Linked DNA regions of Homo sapiens: region 1 is reported to be linked to region 2. The links are microRNA targets in miRTarBase. Many come from high-throughput screens and were not tested one by one. Region 2 holds a microRNA gene; the other region holds the end of a gene's coding sequence.

Evidence for each region. Region 2 holds the annotated microRNA hsa-miR-27b-3p (UUCACAGUGGCUAAGUUCUGC, at 4,470-4,490, shown strand). A microRNA usually pairs through its seed, bases 2 to 8, with sites in the 3' UTR of a target mRNA and lowers its output. Matches are read on the target gene's strand: a 7mer-m8 pairs with bases 2 to 8, a 7mer-A1 pairs with bases 2 to 7 and ends in A, and an 8mer does both.
Region 1: miRTarBase lists ZFP36 as a target of hsa-miR-27b-3p. Seed matches in the 3' UTR shown: 7mer-A1 at 2,540-2,546.

What each region holds. Positions count from the first base shown.
Region 1 is chr19:39,405,947-39,411,568 of GRCh38, reverse strand. It overlaps ZFP36 (ZFP36 ring finger protein), which reads right to left and starts at 4,722. Exons shown (of 2, transcript NM_003407.5): 1 at 4,641-4,722; 2 at 2,162-3,826. The coding sequence starts at 4,664. The coding sequence ends at 2,870. MIR4530 (microRNA 4530) reads left to right here and starts at 1,891; the gene lies at 1,891-1,946. RefSeq lists silencers at 1,159-1,478, 1,829-1,888, 4,679-5,128 and enhancers at 1,541-2,131, 2,394-3,031, 3,032-3,670, 3,671-4,308, 4,359-4,558.
Region 2 is chr9:95,081,036-95,088,614 of GRCh38, forward strand. MIR27B (microRNA 27b) reads left to right here and starts at 4,410; the gene lies at 4,410-4,506. It overlaps AOPEP (aminopeptidase O (putative)), which reads left to right. Exons shown (of 17, transcript NM_001193329.3): 16 at 1,540-1,684; 17 at 5,647-6,124. The coding sequence ends at 1,680. MIR23B (microRNA 23b) reads left to right here and starts at 4,173; the gene lies at 4,173-4,269. It overlaps MIR3074 (microRNA 3074), which reads right to left and starts at 5,059; the gene lies at 4,979-5,059. It also overlaps MIR24-1.

The DNA.
Region 1 (5,622 bases), not on the chromosome of region 2:
GGGAGGATGGGGTAGTTGGAGGTGGGGTGTGGATTGCAACAGCAGTGGTCAGGGAGGATCTCACAGAGAAGGCAACTTTTGAGCAGAGACATGAAGGAGGGGAGTGAGCCATGGGGACACCAGGGGAGTGTTCAGGCAGAGGGAACAGCTAGTGCAAAGCTCCTATGGATGAAGCAGACCAGACTTGGTAGAGCAGCTAGGAGGCCAGTGTGGCTGGAGCAGAGTGGCCAAGGGGGAGGGTAAGCGATGGGTGCCAGATTGTGTGGGCTGTGGGGAGGACTTCGGACTTTGACTTTTATGTGACCTGACTCAGGTCTCATAACAGGCTTCCTTTGGTTGTCTCGTGGGGGAGTGGAGAAAGGAGAGACTGAAGGCAGGGGCTAGAGCAGAGACTGGGGCTGGGGCTGCTATGAAGATGCAAATGGCAGACGATGTTGGCTAGGACCAGGGTGGGGGTCATGGTGGGGGCAGGTGGATAGTGGATCTATTTTGCAGGTGGATCAGACAGGATTGCTGTTGGACTGGGGTGTGGATTTGAGAACAAGGTGTCAAGGGATACTCCTGGGTGTCTGGCTTAAGCCCTGGTAGATGGTGAGAAGTGCCGTTTTCTTATATGAGGGATTTTTTGGGGAAGGGGCAGAGAATCAGATCTGGCTAAAGGAAGGACCAGAGATGTTGTTCTTTCAGTCTCCAAGACTGTTTCTGCAAATGTCTCTTCACTGCTTGCTCTTGGTCTCTGCCCCTCTGCTGCCTTTGCATCTCAGGGGTTCTGACTCCCTCTCGCCTGATCCTCTTCTACTTATTAGGGCCTGAGCCCTTTCCCACAAGGGAAGCAGTTTCCTGGAAGAGGAGACCAAATGTCAGTGAGCAAGGGGAGTGGGCCAAGGAGGCCTGAGAGCAGGAGGGAGGCTTGAGGAGGGTAGAGAGAAGGGAGAGGAGGGAAAGGGGCTTCAGAGGGAGAGAGAAGAGGAGAAGGAGTAAGGCTAGGGGGAGGAGGGGAAGAGGACAATGGGGAGTGGGAGGGCAAGGAAAGGGTGGAGAGGGAAAGAAGGACGGAAAAAGGGAGAGAAGGGAGACGGGAAGGAGGAGAAAGGGGGTAAGAGACGGCAGGATGGGGAGGCTGGAAGTGGGAGAGGAGTAATGAGGGAGGGGACAAATTGGAGGGGGAGAGAAGAACAGAAGGCAAAGGGTGTAGGGCGGGGCAGAAGGGTGCAGAGGAGGAAGTGAAAAAGAGGAGGAAGGGTGAGGGTAGGGAAAGGAGAGAAGAGGGAAGTGAGAGGGAGGAGGGAGGAGTGCGGGGCAAGGAGAAAAAAGAGGGGTCGCAGGGGGCGAAGGCTGGGCGGCAGGGCCGAGCCGCAGGCGCTGACGCAGGGCGGCTTCCGGGCGCGGGGCCCCGGGGTTGGTCCCGACGACGCTGGCCTTGTATGGTCTGAAGACGCGGCTCCCCCGGGGCCCCTCCTAGACGCGCGGCCCCTACCCACACGCCCTGGCCTCGCGGGGCCGACCCTGGTCGGTGTGCGAAGCCTCGGACTTCCAAGGTTCGGAAATGCCAAGACCCGGTAATTCCCGGGCTCCAGGGTCCCGGGTGGCCAGAAATCTGCAACTCCGAGCCACCAGGGGTCTAGAGTCTAAAGCGCTAGGGGATGCAACCTGTGACTCCCAAATGTTGAGATCCTAGCCTCTTGAGACCCTAAACCCGCTTCCCCAACATCCAGAAGGTGTCGAAGCCCCCCCGGAACCTCTAGTCCCGAAACGGGTTCCGCTACCCCAGGCTGCCCCGCCCCGCGCCCGCCCCCGCTCGCTCTGGGCGCGCGCCCCAGCACATTCCGTCCTCCCCACCCGGCCCCTCCCGCCTCCCGCGGCCCCGTGGGGACGGAAACATCCCGTCCCCGACCGCACCCGCCCGAAGCTGGGTCAAGGAGCCCAGCAGGACGGGAGCGCGGCGCCCCCGACGCCCGGGAACTGGCTCCCCCGGTTCCCATCTGGTGACCTCACCTGGTCCCACCCTTTCAGGTGAACGGCCAGGCCCGGTGACGTCACTTCCTGCCAGGTAAGCGCCGCGGGGCTCGGAGAGGAAGAGTTAACTGCACCCAGCTTCCAAAAAGTCACCCCCTCCCTCTCCATTCCTGTCTCTAGACCGCGAAGAAGCCAGGATCCCAGCTTACACTCAGATTGTTTATTTAAAAATGCCCAAAACACAAAAATAGACTTTTAAGGTAATAATATATATTACTAAATATATTATAGTCTACTTATAATAATTATATCGTCGTTTTCAATATTACAAAAAAAGGAAGAAAAATACAAGGGAAGCAGACGACCCAATATATATAAATACTATAAAATCATATTAGAATAAATAAAGTCGTCATAAATAAAGGGCCCATTGATTTATGGGTGGGGTTTGGCAACGGCTTTGGCTACTTGCTTTTGGAGGGTAATTTGAGCACCAGGATTCCCCCTCAGGAGAGGTTCCAGTTACCAGGAGACACTGGAACCTCAGGTCTATAAAAACTGGAGGGGCAGTGAAGGCCTATTATTCACAGCACATAAGATTCTAGGAGACAGATTTGGGCAGGGAAGAGGTGGGGGAGAGGGTTCATTGCCTCCCTTAAATATGCTACAATTTTTTTTCCCCCAAGAACCTCGGAAGACACTCCATCCCCCACCATCATGAATACTGAGCTTGCACACTTGGGGACCTGCCCCAGCGTGAGGTCAGGGGAGTGGGTTAATGCATTCTGGAAAAGGGGATTACTTGATTACTGTCCCCCAAGTCCCCACAGCCCTGGGGTCCATGCAGAGACCACAGTGCAAGAGACGTGGCTCCCCGCTGAGATCCAGCTGATCTGACCGGGCAGTCACTTTGTCACTCAGAAACAGAGATGCGATTGAAGATGGGGAGTCGCCGGGGGGCTGCCACGGGCTGGGGTGGTGCAAAAACTCCCGCCTCGAAGACGGGAGAGTCAGAGCCCCCCAGGCTGCTGCCGCTGCTGGCATATTCATCAGGGTCGGATCCCAGGGACTGTACAGAGGGGGTCCGAACCAGGCCACCCAAGGGCCCCCAGACGCTGATAGGAGTGGCCCTTCGGCAGGAGGGGCAACAGACTGGGGTGGGGTCTCTTCGAGCCAGGGGGGTGCCAGGGGCAGCAGAGAAGGCAGAGGGTGACAGTGGAAGGTCCCCAGGTGGTGGTGGGGAGCTGGAGGGCGAGAAGGAGCTGGAGGACAGGGAAGGGCCGGCCAGGCCTGGTGGTGGTGGTGAGGTCCGGCGGCCAGAGGGCAGGCCGGAGAAGCTGATGCTCTGGCGAAGCACAGGAGGGTGGCCCGGGGCCGCCAGGTCTTCGCTAGGGTTGTGGATGAAGTGGCAGCGAGAGCCGTAGGGGCAGCGGCCCTGGAGGTAGAACTTGTGACAGAGTTCCGTCTTGTATTTGGGGTGGCGATTGGCCTGGCGCAGCTCGCCCAGGCCATGGGCAAACTGGCACTTGGCCCCGTAGCGGCAGCGCCCACTCTCTGAGAAGGTCCGACATAGCTCAGTCTTGTAGCGCGAGGGGGTGGTGGAGGTTGCAGTGGGCGAAGTGGGTGAGGGTGACAGCTCAGGGCCCAGGCGGGGAGCCAGCGGTGCGAAGCCAGGGGGTGGGGGCACCCAGCCACAGCTGCGGCCCTCCACTAGGCTGGTGGAGCGGCCAGGCAGGCGGGAGGTGACCCCAGACGGGCTGGAGTCGGAGGGGCTCAGGCTCCAGGGTCCCGAGGAGCCCCAGCCTGGGCTGGACTCAGTCCCTCCATGGTCGGATGGCACGGGCACGTCAGGGCTCAGCGACAGGAGGCTCTGCGGAAATGGGTCGGTTAAGGCACCTGAAAATGCAGGGCGACGCCCCACCCCAGCTGCAGGGAACTAGAGCTTGCCAGGCCGGTTTGTGGGCTCCCCGCCTGAGCCCCACCCGCCCGCAGAAACCCCTGGGTTCCGGATGCCAGGAACCCAGAGTTGGAGGTTCTGAGTTTACCCACCACCGAGGCCTTATCCCGAGGGACCCAGGAATCCCGGCTTCCCCGGCTGGACCAAGAGGGGGACCCCGAAGTCAGGGCGCACCACTGTTTCCCAATTTTGGGTCTCTTGTCCTCCCCGGATATGACCCACGCGTCGGGATCTCCAGTTTCACAACTGGAGAAACCGGGCAAAGTTGACCTGGAAGTCCGGATTGCTTCGGTTTTAGGGTTCTCTGTCTCTACGGTCAGGGACTGGAGAGACAGAAGTCGGATCCCCCCACCCTGAGACTTCAGCCCCAGAGACGCCTCCGCGCAAAACCACGCCCTCAGCAACGACTAGGGGTGAGCCAGGTATGGGGGCCACTTCCGCCTCCAGGCAGCCTCGGTCTGAGAAAAGTTCTCCGACTTTCCACTTGCATGGGCCGCCCCACCCATGTTTGAGCGAAGAGCCGGGTGTCGCGGGTTCCATTTTCACCTCCAAATCACCAAGCTGGTCTGAGCGGGAGGCAGGGGCCCCAGGCTGGAGGGCGCGGCGCTAGGGAGCCCCAGTTGGAGAAGGGAGGCAAGCGTCCCGGGCTGGAGTTTGCGGCGCTAGAGAGGTGGGGACTCGGACTCAGGCATGCAGGTACCGGGGATGCCGTGCGGCGGGGACTCACCTCGTAGATGGCAGTCAGATCCATGGTGTAACGGTTGGCCATGAGGGGTGTCGGCCGAGAGTGGGAGCGCTGAAGTCAGGCTGAGGCTGGCACCGAGAGCCGGCTACTTATAGGAAACTGCAAGCACGGGGCGGGGCCGGGGCCGGGGCCGGGGGCGGGGCAGGAGGGGCGCTTCCCGGACGCGCGCCCCCGGCGCAGCCTGGCTGGCCCTGGACTGGTTCCCTTCCGCCCGGCCCTGGGCCAGGACGCGCCTGAGCTTGGCCGGTGGACAGCCGTGACCGAGCGGGGAATGCGTGGGGAAGGGGTGGGGGTGCGGATGGGGGGACGCCTGCCCAGTTTTCAAAGCTGGAGACTGAGGCTTGTAGAAGGAAACTGGGGCGGAGGTGGGGGCAGGGCCCCAGGGGCAATTGACAAGAGCAGAAGCCCGATGGGGGTGCGCGTGCGACACAGACGGATGGGGGCGGGGAGAGACGCAGAGGGGTACAGACAGGCAGACAGGCAGAGAGAAAAACATCGAGAGAGACACACACACCAAGAGACATACAGAGAGAGATAGACAGGGTGAGGAAGGGAGGGAAGACGGGGAGACAGAGACAGTCCCAGAGACAGATTCAGAGGGAGAAGAGGGTTGGGAGGATCACAAAAAGAAACAGAAAGGGGCTGAGCGCAGTGGCTCACACCTGTGATCCCAGCACTTTTTGTGTTTTTCTTTCCTTTTTCTTCTTCTTTTTTTTTTTTTTTGAAAGACGGGGTTTCCCTATGTTGCCCAGGCTAATCTCCAGCTCCGGGGCTCAAGCGATCCTCCCACCTCCGCCTCCCAAAGAGCTGGAATTACAGGTGTGAGCCACCAAGCCCGGCCAATCCCAGTACTTTCAGAGGATGAGGCAGGTGGATTACCTGAGATCAGGAGTTCAAGATCAGCCTGGGCAACAGTGAGATCCCATGTCTACAAAAAATACTATTTAAAAAAATTAAAAAGAAA
Region 2 (7,579 bases):
ACTTCACGGCATCTCCAGCACCTGCTAGGCCATGCGTGTCCCTTGGTGACGCCGTGGGGTAGATCCCTGATTTCAGTGGCCCTCATTTAAAGTACACGTGCAAGTCAGACTGGGAGAGCCCCGACGGGACAGTCTCGGTCTGTACCTGCACCTGCCGTGCTGTGCTAGGCGGGTTTCCTTCCTGTGAGAGCTTTTCTCACTGTTCACCAGGGACAGCAGTCACCTTCCTAGGAGTTCACAGGCAGTGCGCATGTGGGAGCGGATCTGGGGAGACCTTCATTGGCCGCCTCTGATGTCCGCAGTGTGTCAGGTCACCAACAGGTGTGTCCTGTAACACGTCACAGCCTCCCACGCCTTCCCCATTTCCCCACTCTCCACCCCCTCTGCCTCTGAATGAGTGGCCTGTCAAGCACTGTGGGTAACAGCATGGAGCTGCCTTCCAGCTGGGGTGGAGAGTGGGAGTGAGGCAAACAAAAGGACTTTTGATAGGGTCTCAGTGTGGGGGACAGCCAGCCAGTGAGGCCTGAGGCCTCATTATTCCTACAAAGAAAAGTACATGCCTTTGTACCAGAAGAAATGTCACATTTGCACAGCAGAGCAAGAGGTATCTGGAAAAACATACAGGAGTATAAGAAGGACAAAATTTAAGAGCAACTTTATGGTCTGTTCTAAAGACCAGAATTCACTGCAGTATATTTAGAATTGTGATCTTTGACAAATAAGGATCACCATGTCTGGACTTTTTTGGGAAAGCACTTTTGAACCCTTAACTACGAAGTTTTGCTCTTGCGATGTCTTTGAGACCCTTCTTTTAGTTTACTCCAGCGGAATGTAACTCGTGGCATAACTAAGCATGGCACAAGAGAGTAGACAGATCCAGATGGGCCCTTGGGTCTTCTAGAACGTCCTTGGCTATTTTAAAAATACAGGAAAAATGCAGATGTGAGTGTTTGCGGCATTGTTCCCAAGCAGCAGAGCCGGTGCGGGCTACGGTGCAGGGCTGTGGAGGAAAGGGCGCAGGCGGGGTGGGCGTCTCTGCGGGCATCGTGATGTGTCTCTGCCGCGGCTGCTGCCTGCTGTGCTCTTTGCTTCCCTGGCAGGTGAAGGACTTCCCGGATGAGCTCAGACCAGCTACTCCTAGGGACACACTTTGCGGGGCAGGAGTCCCGTGTCTGTAATGCCACACAGGCTCTCCGCGTGGTAATTCTGGGAACCATCTCTGTCTGTTCAGAGCGTTCCTGACACGGCCATCATGGTGGGAATGCCTGCTCATCGTTCTGTCACCAGTGAAATCGTCAGAGTCTGTGTAGAGAATTGGGAGCTGAGGATTCCTTGGGGTTTTGAGTACAAGGAGGAGACAGGGATTGCAGACTGCAGCTTCCAAAAGCACAGTCAGCCCACGGCCTCTGTCTTCTCTGGGGTCTTTGCAATTTCTAGACCAGCAAGTGTGTGTGGAACAAGCACAGACTGAGCTCATGTGTGCGTGTGTGTGGGTACCCACACCTTCGCCTGATGCCCTTTGGCCTCTGTGCCCTGCAGGCCATGGGTGTGTACCTCTACGGGGAGCTGATGGTGAGTGAGGACGCCAGACAGCAGCAGCTCGCCCGTAGGTGCTTCGAGCGGACCAAGGAGCAGATGGATAGGTCCTCAGCCCAGGTGGTGGCCGAAATGTTATTTTAACGAGGTGATTCTCTCCCTTTCCTTTCTGTCATTTAGTTCTAACCAGATACTCCTTTTAGGAGCCAACTAAATCAGTAAGCCGAATAGTTAGCCAAGACTACCCGCAGCATCAATAGTCGGCTCCCTGGCCCAGGGCCTGGAGAGTAACTGGCCAAGTGGGTGCTGGGCTGGTATGGGAGCCCCGGGTCCCTGGAGCACCTTGCCTGGCTGTGGCAGTCACCGGGAAGCAGAGGCTGTCCACCTGGAGGCACAGCGGCACTCCTTGGCACTATTTTGGCCACTTCAGGTTTTATAATCTGTTGAAACAAAAATTGTGGGGGAACATCTTGAGTAGGTTTAGAGATGGAATGGGAAGCCTGGCAGAAGCGCTGGTCCAGTCTTCAGGGTCACGGCTGATACAGGAGTTTAAGCGGCCGTGTGACTCCAAAGCCTAGCTTCTGCAAGCAGATGTTTTCTTCTAGCCATGTGTGAATTGGAGGTTCCTTGGGCTGTCCACGCCTGGTCATCGGCTGGCAGGAGGCTCTCCAGGCACACGCAGCACACACAGCACATGCACCACACGTAGCACACACACTGCATGCAGCACACACACACCAGAGGACGCACCACACAGAGCACGCACAGCACACACCACACAGCGCACGCACCACACAGAGCACACGCGGCACACACAGCACACACAGCGCACGCACCACGCAGAGCACACACGGCACATGCAGCATACACACCAAACAGCGCACGCACCACACAGAGCACACGCGGCACACGCAGCACACACACCACACAGAGCACCTGGAGCACCCACAGCACACACACCACGCAGAGTACACGCGGCACACACACCACACACAGCGCATGCACAACACAGAGCACACACAGCACATGCACCACACGTAGCGCGCACACTGCATGCAGCACACACACCACACACAGCGCGTGCACCACACAGAGCACCTGCGGCACACACAGCACACACCGCACGCACCACACAGAGCACATGTGGCACACACAGTGCACGCACCACACAGCACCCGCGGCGCACACAGCACACGTGGCATATGGCCTCCATGACCCTGTGTCTTGAGGGCAGGTCCTACTTTTTGCTTTGTTGTGTTGGAGCGGAATTTCTCCCCTGGCTTCTATTGGAGTCCTAGATTATTTAAATCACTTCCTCTGTTAATTGTGCCTGGAATTAACCTGTTAGATTTACTTCCTAGCAGTTAGTTGCTCAGTATGGGTTTCTACACTATTAAAGCAACCTAGCGGTAGTACACAAGGTTTTGTTAGGATAGCTGTGAGATTTTTTTTCTCTAACAATCATCATTATTTCTGTGTCTGCTCCGTTTTTCTTCAGTGTTTTATATGATATTAATAGGGGATGTCTAATTTTGTATCTTTAAAAAAACTTTATCAAATCTGAAGCATTTTTCGTGTTATAGCTTCTCTATAATTTTTCATGGATATTGAATATTTGGTGTTGATATTCTTCACTCAGTTTTGAACATTGAGTTTTCTTCTAATGTTTTGTGCTTATGAAAACCATTTCTGTGTAACGTGTTTAAGTAGCTTATTTATCTGAAAGAACTCTAATAATGAAAAGAAATAAAAAGTTTTTCAGAAGCATGATCATATTCTTCCAGAAGAGTCAGGAACCATGTGTGCCAGGAAAGGGAAACGGGACTGAGCGTCTCGTAGCGAAACGCCTGCTGCAGACTTGACGCGGCTCCCCTCCAGGACGGGCTGGCGGCACACAGACTGTGCACTTACCTCACTGCCGGCCTCATAATAGTAATCAGTGTAAATGGTGTTTCTCTTTCGTTTTGTTATTTCGTGGCGTACGTGTTAAAGTGTGTGAAACTACAAGGCCAGCTAGTCCTTTCATCATTCCCTTTGGTGCAGGTTTTGGAGCAGCACCACAGGGCACACCCCTCGCCACTCTTTATGGGGAATTTTTGCCCAGGCAGGCAAAGGAGTCATCTTGGTCACAAGTCTCCCTTTTCCCCCTCCCCAGCATCTTCGATCCTGTCCCCACCCCTCCAGATGCATCCAGGGGTTGCAAGCCTGCCCCCCAACCAGTCCCCGTGAGGAACAGTGGCCGGGATTGTCCCAGGGCCCCTTCCAGCAGGGGGACCTCCTGACTTGAGAGTCCCCAAAGCCTTCCCAGGGCAGCTAGAATCTGCCTGGAGAGAAGGGATCTTGTCCCCAAGGGTTAGAGGCAGTAAACTAATAGCAAGGACAGCTGCCTTTAGCAATTGTGTGTGTCGCATGGCCGGTCCCTGCATTTTTCTTCAGTTCCAAAGCTGCACTGGCATTTTTATGGTCATCTCTGGAGTCCCTTTGATTCAAGAAATTATACCTCTAGGATGCCAACTAAACGAACAACAAACAGAAACTCCACCTGTTTGCTAGCATAACAGGCGTGAAGGCGGCAGTGTCGCCGGCGTCCTTCCGCGGAAGCCCAGTGTGTGCAGACAGCACGGGGTGGCGCTGCTCTCAGGTGCTCTGGCTGCTTGGGTTCCTGGCATGCTGATTTGTGACTTAAGATTAAAATCACATTGCCAGGGATTACCACGCAACCACGACCTTGGCTGCTCCTCCAGAAACCGTGGTCGCGCTCACTGCAGATTGGAGAACAGGTGCATCTCGTAGCTCTTCTTTGGAAACAAAAGAAGCCACCAGCTGAGGAAGATGCTCACCGGTCACCGTCCCTTTATTTATGCCCAGCGATGACCTCTCTAACAAGGTGCAGAGCTTAGCTGATTGGTGAACAGTGATTGGTTTCCGCTTTGTTCACAGTGGCTAAGTTCTGCACCTGAAGAGAAGGTGAGATGGGGACAGTTAAGTTGGAGCCGCTGGGGCAGAGGCCGTTGCTGACGGGCCGGCCGCTGCTGCACAGTCAGCTTGGGTGCGGAGCGCGATCCTGGAGGATGAGAGACCACTTGACCCCAAGGATGCACTGTCTCCTGCTGGGAATGCTAGCCATGTACTGAGTCCTTAAGTCTGTCCACAGAAACATGCACTAATCGGACATCTGTCTGAAAGGTCAAATGTATTGAAAGTTGCAAAAATTCTTCTTACAAAAAACTAAAACCAAATGCATCACCTAAGTCGTGTGAAATCATGTGGTAGCTCATGGCTGTGAGCGGGGCGGGGCGGGGCTTTCGGAGGAGCTCCTGTTGTTCTGGGCGCGGTGAACTCTCTCTTGTATTTGCAGTCCAGGCCTTCGCGTCTCCTGCGCCAGCAGACGGTGCCCACGGAGCTCCCAGCTGAGGCGCTGCTTCTCCGGGCTGTCGATTGGACCCGCCCTCCGGTGCCTACTGAGCTGATATCAGTTCTCATTTTACACACTGGCTCAGTTCAGCAGGAACAGGAGTCGAGCCCTTGAGCAAAAAGCCTTCGTGTCTGTAAGTGCCCGAGGCTCAGGAGAGCTGGGGCTCCCACTCGCGGCAGACAGGCCCGCGTCCACCCTGCGTCCACCCCGGCCCGGCGGCAGCACGGTGCCAGTCATCTGCATGTGCTCCTGCGGCGTGGGGGTTTGTAGACTTGGAAAACCCTGTTGGCAGAAAGTTAAGAGCTCCCAGGCCTGAAGGCAGGACACAGTGCCAGCAGGGGGCCGTTTGCCCCCATGTGTAAGGGAGGCAGGGCCCAGCTCTCCCACGGCGAGGTGAGCTGAGACTTTCTGAGAACAGTTAGAGTGGGTGCGTGTCTGAAATGGGTACTCCTAGCAGCTATTGTGTACGCAAAGCCTGAGTACAGCCTGCTGGTGTCATGGCCACGTGTGAGCAGGCCAGCGTCACACGGCTCGCTGTGACCCGTCCCGGAGACTGAAATGGGCCTGGGTCTTCTCCTTGTCCTGTGATTAAAGTCCTCTCTTGAAAGTGGAGAGCAAAGGCACACAGAGGTGCGCGCTCACAAGAATTCCTCCCGGTGACTGGGTAATCAATGTTACTGCTGTTTCCTTTGCAGGAAAGACCACAGCAAGATTCTTTCATTCGTCTCCTCCTAGCCTGGGGGACCAGGCTCGAACTGACCCTGGACATCAAAGGAGGGATTATGTGGCTGCTAAAGCCATCGGCCCACAGCCCTGTTCACATCTTGGTGCTTCTCTTTCCCAGAGGCTGGTCCCAGCCAGGCACACACAAAAGGCAGATTCTCGTAAACGCAGCCTCCCTCCCTGGAGGCTGCCTCCTGCCCTGGATCTGGAGTGGAGCTGCTCTGAGATTTTGAGTTCTTCTGCAGAGATGATTAAATATATCCAAGAGACATTGGAAAACCTGCTGAACATTTTACATTGGTCTGCTCAGCACATGGCTGGATGCGGATATTTCTATAATTCCAGAAAGTCACACAGCTCCTCTGTATGAGACCAGTGGGCGCCATTTAAAAGAACAGGATGAGAATCTAAGATATATTATTAATAAATGTAATGGATTTTTTTTTTGTATACGTGTTTGCTTCTAAATTTCATACTGTTTAAAAATAATAAAGGCCAGGTGCGGTGGCTCATGCCTATAATCCCAGCACTTTGGGAGGCCGAGGTGGGTGGATCACGAGGTCAGGAGATCGAGACCATCCTGGCTAACATGGTGAAACCCTGTCTCTACTAAAATACAAAAAATTAGGCGGGCGTGGTGGTGGGCACCTGTAATCCCAGCTACTCGGGAGACTGAGGCAGGAGAATCGCTTGAACCCAGGAGGTGGCAGTTGCAGTGAGCCGAGATTGCGCCACTGCACTCCAGCCTGGGCGACAGAGCAAGACTCCATCTCAAAAAAAAAAAAAAAAAAAAAAAAAAAGCACGTACAAGAAAAAGGTATTCTCCACATTCTGGTGTTCCCCCCCCACCTCACTAGTTTCTTTGTTGTTTTCAAGGTAGTGTTAGTTCTCTTAGAAGCCTGAAAACAAAAGTAATTTGGCTGCGCGTGGGGCACCCTCTTCCGATAAAATGGAGAGCCTGGGCATATTCAGGCATCGTGGGAGTCTGGTGGTATGATTTTTCTTTCTCCACAAGGTTTAGGGTATAGACAGAAGCTGGGCACTGAGCTTCCTTGGCACTGTCCATGGGGCAGAATGTTTGAAAATGCCTGGAGAAGGCTGTAGGAACGGGTGCAGCCATGGGCCCTGTGCCAAGTTGGGCTGAGCATGAGTGCACCTGAACACACCCACAGTCTCCTCTGCCTGGCTCCAGGGGGCAGCACAAATTCTGGCCTGTTTGGGGTGAAGTGGGGCTCTACCATGGATCTCATTAGAAGCTCTGGACTGGGAGGCCTTGGTCTCCAGAACTCTCTTTTCTTGTCCCAGTGACTGATTCCAGAACGTTCTTAGGATTTGCTCTCTGCTGTCACATGCCTTTGCGTGGGACTGTATAGCTGGCTGTGCCATCGTGGAGGATGGCTCAGAACTTGACTGTTATGTTTGAATAAATACACGACCGCGGCTTCCTGTGGAGATTTAGAATGAACGATGCTTTCTCTCTGTGTGCTGCTGCCTTTTTTTTTTCCTTCCTTTCTTTTTTTTGACAGTTTCACTCTTGTTGCGCAGGCTGGAATGCAATGGCACGATCTCTGTACACTGCAACCTCCGCCTCCCGGGTTCAAGCGATTCTCCTGCCCCAGCCTCCCGAGTAGCTGGGATTACAGGCTCCCGCCACCATGCCCAGCTAATTTTGTATTTTTAGTGGAGATGGGGTTTCACCACGTTGGTCAGGCTGGTCTCGAACTCCCGACCTCACGTGATCCACCTGCCTCGGCCTCCCAAAGTGCCGGGATTATAGGCGTGAACCACTGTACCCGGCCTCTCTCTCTCTCTCTCTCTGCGCTTTCTAAGTGTGTTTGGCTTTCACTGAGGCAGAGCCAGGAAGGACCGTGGGAGTACCGGCCGCACTGCCCTGCGAGGCTCCCA